2 linked regions of the Homo sapiens genome follow. The protein of the gene in region 2 purifies or fractionates together with the protein of the main gene of each other region. This does not show direct contact. Each region holds a gene or a part of one and is shown on either strand. Other genes may lie near its edges.

Region 1 (3,071 bases), on a different chromosome or scaffold from region 2:
AAATAAAATAACTGTATTTCTAAAACAAACAAATACAAAAAGTAGGGCCTTTTTGGAGATGGGTATCATCTCAAAGGAGACTAATTGAACAGTTGTTATTCAAAATCAGAAATATTTTTGAAGTAAAACTCTAATTGTGTATTGTGTTGAAATTAATATGTGTTGTTTCTTTCAGTCAGTGGAACCTAGTGAAGTGAAACAAGCAACTTCAACATCAGGACCAGCATCAGCAGTTGCTGATCCACCCAGTACTGAAAAAGAAATAGATCCTACCAGCATCCCTACTGCTATCAAGTACCAAGATGACAATTCCCTGGCCCATCCAAATGTAATATCCTTAAACTTTACGAATGTCAGTTGAAGTCTAATTTACTGAAATTATTTCAATCTGTTATCCTTTTGTGCTAACACCAAGGAGACCATTGGAGGAAACAGGTTCATATTCCCTTGCTAAAAATAGGCATCTGGCCCCCAGGCCTTTAGAACTGTTATCTATATTTGAATACAGTAGGGTCCAACTCATGTTGCCTAACCTGTAGAAGTATTCTGTCTATGGTTAAGAAAAATAGACAAAGAGAAGCATTTTTTCCTTTTTTTTTTTTTTAGCTGAATTGATCAGCACCATGAGAAGTGTTTGTTTAAAAATCTAGCACTAAAAGTTCCATTTCTGAGCTCTACTTTGTTCATTATCAGTGAGCACATCACTAACATCATACTTTGCTGTCTTCCATGAAATGTTGTAATTCTGCTGTTTTGGAAAAGTTATAGGAAATAAACTTCACAAATATAAGGTACAAAATTGTTAAGCAATGATGTTGATACTAGTAGTTCTTTTACTCCAAGAATTTCTGAGCATTACTAATTCCAAATAGATAGTCATCAATTAAGAGGTCATCAAGAGTTAAACAGTATCCAAATCTTGTGTTGAGAGATATATTCTACAAAGGTGAGTTCTGTCATTTTAGGTCAAATTCAAGTTATTGGGAGACAGTAACATTTTTTCTTTTTCTTTTCTTATTTCAGTTATTTATCGAGAAAGCTGATGCTGAGGAAAAATGGTTCAAGAGATTAATTGCTCTCCGACAAGAAAGACTAATGGGCAGTCCTGTGGCCTAAGTAATATACATATAGTTGGATTGGATTGTCAGCAGTAACATTGGAAATTTAGGTTTTTAAATCCCAATATTAACTTTTTACTCTTAAAAAGAATTTTGCTGATTATATATAAAGGTAGTCTCATTTCATTTGTCTCTCATGTAGGCTTGAATATTTGTTAATTTGAATTAAATCAAACATTGTAAAAATTAAAACAAAATTTAAGATTGCATGAAAATGTTATACTGTTAATAAAGCTAAACATAAATAAGTCTGTTAAAATGAATGGTAGACACTAGTGTTTCTTAGTGCAATTCAAAAAATGTCAAGATGTCATTTAAAGACACAATTTTGATTAATTATGCATACATGAGAATTGAATTACATGCTATAAATATGAGATTTCATCTTCCGTATGGTATTCAACCATTTTTAAATATTTTATTTCACCATATTGCAAATTTTTAGGCACAATAAAAAGCACCCTAAACAATGTAAGCAGAATGTGCATGTTAAAGAACATATTTATGGAAAAAAAATTTTTGAAACTTAAATAAATTGGTGATTTTGCTTAGAGATCAGCTTCTACTAGATGCTCCTTTACAACATGTTAGCAGATCTCAGCTCATTGTTTTAGAAATCACATGTTCATGCTAGACCTAACCAGTTGGCCAAATACCTATGATGGAGAAATCATTTCTGAGAAAACTGATAAGAGCTCTCACTTCAGTCTTACTTACCCCACTGCTATTCCCTGTGGAGAAAGCCGGCTAATTGTTTTGATAAGGCTATCTGCCATTGTAGAATACCTTTCTCTAGTAGCTGAATGACAATCAACTATACGTTCCATACTAAACATGCCAGAGATAGGACTTTTAGGCCTTGCTTTACAAAACTGGTTTTTAACAGCTGACATGAATATTTCCCGTTTCTATTTTCTTTTTTTTTTTTTTTTTTTTTTTTTTGAGACGGAGTCTCGCTCTATCCCCCATGCTGGAGTGCAGTGGCGCGATCTCAGCTCACTGCAAGCTCCGCCTCCCAGGTTCACGCCATTTTCTTGCCTCAGCCTCCCGAGTAGCTGGGACTACAGGCACCCGCTAACATGCCCAGCTAATTTTTTGTGTTTTTAGTAGAGATGGGGTTTCACCATTTTAGCCAGGATGGTCTATTTTCTTCTGTTGTCCAGTCACTAATTTAGTCTCTGCGAAGACTGTAGCTCAGAACAAAAGATAAGCAAAAAAAGTCTTCAGGGTAGGACTGCCAACATATAGGACATTTTAATGCCATCTTCTTTATATTTCTGGGACATTAAAATTCAAATCTCTGTTGAAAATGAAAAATGTAAAACTTAGTTGCAAACAGTATAGAAAATAAGTGATGATGAAATATTTGTTTTCATACAAACATGCTTTCCCATTCTAAATAGATGCTAGTTTTCTTTTTTCCTTGGCTGTAAATAAAAGTGCCCCAAATGAACCGAGATTTGTGTGGTTTTTAACATAGATGTATACAATTTTAGTGACTTAAAAAGGGGTTACAGTTTATGAAATATTTTTATTTCATACTTTGTATAACTTATAAACTATAGAAGTACTATCACCCTATTGGAAAGTATATGTTAGTGGTCTGGGCAAGAATATGGGTTATCATTTGGGCCACTAATGATTCTCCAGAGGACCTGGGCTAGGCAGTTTTCTCAATATCCCTGATCTTCCTTATCTATAAAACAGTGAAAATCTGGTCTACTTCAATTATATTTAATACCAGTGTTCCTCTGTGGCAAGTACCCCAAATACAGAAGCTTGAACTGTGACAGAATTGTTTTTTGGGGTTTTTTTTGGGGGGGAGGGCGGTGGTTTGAGACAGAGTCTTACTCTGTCATCCAGGCTGGAGTGCATTGGTGCGATCTCGGCTCACTGCAAGCTCCGCCTCCCAGGTTCATGCCATTCTCCTGCCTCAGCCTCCTGAGTAGCTGG
Region 2 (3,500 bases):
CCATCTAGGAAGGGAGCCCTCCTCCAGAACTGAGTCAGTGGACACCTTGATCTTGGACTTCCCAGCCTTCATACCTGTGAGAAAATTATTTTCTGTTGTTTAAGCTACCCAGTCTGTTGTATTTTATTAAGGCAGCCAATGTGCACATGAGGTATATGGTAGTGGTATACCAAAAATGTTTAGTTACAGGTTGTATCTGAGGGCTAGGATTATGGGTAACATTTTTCTTTATACTCAGTATTTACAGCAAATGTCACTTTTGTAAGAAGGGGGAGAAAAGTATACAAATAAAGCAAAGGTATTTTAAGTGAGTTTAAAAAAGTGCTTAAAAATGAAATAGTTCTCTTCCTTCTAGTTTATTCAGATTATACTTTTATAGATATAACAGACTTTTACCTGATTACAAATGCAGTATCGAGGTTCATTTGGGTCGTAAGTCCAATCAACCTGACTATTTGAATCAGATTCTGGCACTACAGTTGTTTGTTGAGAGATTTCTTGTACAACAGTTGATGATGAAGAACACGATGATAAGGAAGAAGAGGAGGAGGAAGATGATGACTGCTGGCTTGAAGACTTGTTGTTGTTTCTGAAAAAAATAGTATAAGTTTTATTTGCTCACCATCCAGAAGTTAACTGAGAATAACTCCTAAATAAATAGTATAAAATGAAATGACATCAAATGTATAAATTAAAGTGTAAGCTAAAGTAATCCGGATTTACCAATGACTTAAATTGTAGGTAGTACTTTGAAGAATTAACATAAGTTCTGGCTACTTTACAGACATTATTTGTATTTTTTTTTTTTTTTTGAGATGGAGTCTCGCTCTGTTGCCCAGACTGGAGTGCAGTGGCGCGATCTCTGCACACCGCAAGCTCCACCTCCCAGGTTCACGCCATTCTCCTGCCTCAGCCTCCCGAGTAGCTGGGACTACAGGCGCCCGCCACCATGCCTGGCTAATTTTTTGTATTTTTAGTAGAGATGGGGTTTCATCGTGTTAGCCAGGATGGTCTCGATCTCCTGACCTCGTGATCTGCCCACCTCGGCCTCCCAAAGTGCTGGGATTATAGGCATGAGCCACCCCGCCCAGCCACTCATTATTCGTATTTTTAAGTAAACTGAATACTCTTCATCAAAACCTAAAGCACACACACACAAAAACATTTGATGAAAGTGGTTATAACCATCAACTGATGTGTGAATACCTACCATGAGTATGGCAGGGAACCAAGACTGTAAAAATTCACAAGTAATTTACTGCTAAGCCCTATGCTATTTAAATTCTAAAAGTATAGAACTTTATCATAAGAAATTACATTAAACTTGTACCATTAAGATGAATTAATTTTTAAGATGTTTGACACTTCTGTTGTGGTTATTTCATATTGATCGTTCTTTAAGGGATTAATTCACAAAAAATATAACATATTTTAAAATACAGAAAATATAACTACTAGGTAACTAATTATTTTGGCCTAGCATTTGAACTTTCATTATGTATAAACACCCAGCATATTCAGTTACCTGGGATAGACAGTGATAAATGCTATTAGGTTTTCATATTTAAAGCTTATACAGTCATCCCAAGTCTCATATACAAAATCTAGGGATATTTTTACACCATCAGTTTTTGGGACCCAAGACTAAGAATGAAGACGCCTTGCTTGCTGTTAATCAAAATGAAAAATCTTGTTTAAAAAAAAAAAATCACCAGGATATAATTTGCATTGCATTAATTTACCTTGAAACACATGGCAAAATAAAGGGTAATAAATGAAAAGCAGTTCCATAAAATGATTTATCTTAATGAATAAAAGAAGATAAAAAGAAGTCATGTATTAACAAACTCAATTTATGACTCTAGAAAAATTAAAAACAACTCTAACACTTTTTAAAGACTTGACACCTTCAAAGTATGGCACTATAAAATGAAAACCGCATGTCTCCCTACCTCTGCAAGGTTAATTTTAATCCGTTATATCCTGCCTTTAACATAGAGAGGCCTGGCTGAAGTGTCAAGTAGACCAAGTGTTCAGTAAAGGTATAGGGCTACTGTAACAATAAAACTTACTTGCTCTTTCGACCACTCCGTGAGTCGGCTGCTGATGAACTGGCATTCTGTGTTAATGTTGTCATAAGTGCCGAAGATGATGAATAGCCAACTGTTTCCCTGGCCATTGAAAATTCTTTTCCCAACTGAAAGTCATTATTCTTAAATGCTTCATAACTGGCTTTTAAACTTGATGTTCTTCGTCCCTCCTTCATCTTAAATAGACATTCATTGATAGCATCAATATATGTAAATATGTAGATTTTCTTTTTCAAGTTTTACAAATTATAGTTTTATTTTGGTTTATCAAATGTTAATTTATATTGTTTAAACTATTATTTTCATCACTGGAATTTAAGCTTTTTTTTTTTTTTTTTTTTGAGGTGGAGTTTCAATCTGTCGCTTGGGCTGGAGTCTAGTGGCACGATTTTGGCTCGCTGCAACCTCCACCTCTCAGGTTCAAGCAATTCTCCTGCCATAGCCTACCGAGTAGCTGGGATTACAGGCACCCACCAGGCACCCAGCTAATTTTTTTGTATTTTTAGTAGAAATGGAGTTTCACCATGTTGACCAGGCTGGTTTTGAACTCCTGACCTCAAGTGATCCACCTGCCTCGGCCTATCAAAGAGCTGGGATTACAGGTGTGAGTCACCATGCCTGGCCTAACCTTTTTCATTTAAAGATTTAAAATAAGATTTTACACAGTTAGAATATAAACTATGGGATGGGCAGCTTCTTAATTTGGAATATAGGCAAACTATACAGAAGTGAACAAACTCAAGATGACCTAAGTCCAAGGCTACAGGGGAAGCCTTGGAACTGGCAGAAAGAACGAAGAACTATGCTAGCATGTGCTGTGGACTGCAGTCAAGAACATGGGCAACATGAGCAGTTATTGTGAGAAGGGTCTGCATGTAATCCGCATGATAAACCTATTTTTTAGTTTTCATTATCAATCAGGCAATTCCTATGTATTATTTCATTAAATAAAATATCACATATCGTGAAATCATGACTTAAAAATGAAAATATACAACGTTAGAAAACTATTTGTTCACATCCCGTTATTTCTATTAGGTTTCCAATGATTCCGACAAAATGTAACATTTTGTCTCTAAACCCTTTACTTTTTACCTGAGCTGTAGCCTGAACTGCTTGAGCAGCTGCCATGGTAATTGCCCCTGCACCAGTTCCTGAAGATAACGAGCCAATGTTATAGGATCCCAGAGGTTGGGAGGAATTCACATTGTAGGCATTGTTAGAAGAGGCTGTGGAATTATTATTTCGACAACCTGTGTAGATGTAAAAAAGAAATAAAAATGGTTGCAGAGAACATAATGTTAGTGAGTCTAAATTACATTATTTCCCAGCACAGACATATAATCATTAAAATTTTTAATGTCACTTGTACATTAAGTCAACTGAATAATGTATTTGGTTTTCCTTTTT

What was found. Proteins that work in one complex are often made in the same cells at the same time.
Region 1: the proteins of ING3 (region 2) and RSRC1 purify together in Homo sapiens (affinity purification with mass spectrometry; one large-scale study listed by BioGRID and IntAct). This does not show direct contact.

The regions. Positions count from the first base shown.
Region 1 is NC_000003.12:158,543,160-158,546,230, forward strand, and holds the end of RSRC1 (serine/Arginine-related protein 53), read left to right. Parts: intron 1-175; coding exon 176-328; intron 329-1,023; coding exon 1,024-1,116; 3' UTR 1,117-2,571; downstream 2,572-3,071. UniProt on the Homo sapiens protein: Has a role in alternative splicing and transcription regulation. Involved in both constitutive and alternative pre-mRNA splicing. May have a role in the recognition of the 3' splice site during the second step of splicing.
Region 2 is NC_000007.14:120,967,777-120,971,276, reverse strand, and holds part of ING3 (inhibitor of growth protein 3), read right to left. Parts: intron 3,344-3,500; coding exon 3,186-3,343; intron 2,267-3,185; coding exon 2,073-2,266; intron 590-2,072; coding exon 397-589; intron 77-396; exon of another isoform or gene 1-76. UniProt on the Homo sapiens protein: Component of the NuA4 histone acetyltransferase (HAT) complex which is involved in transcriptional activation of select genes principally by acetylation of nucleosomal histones H4 and H2A.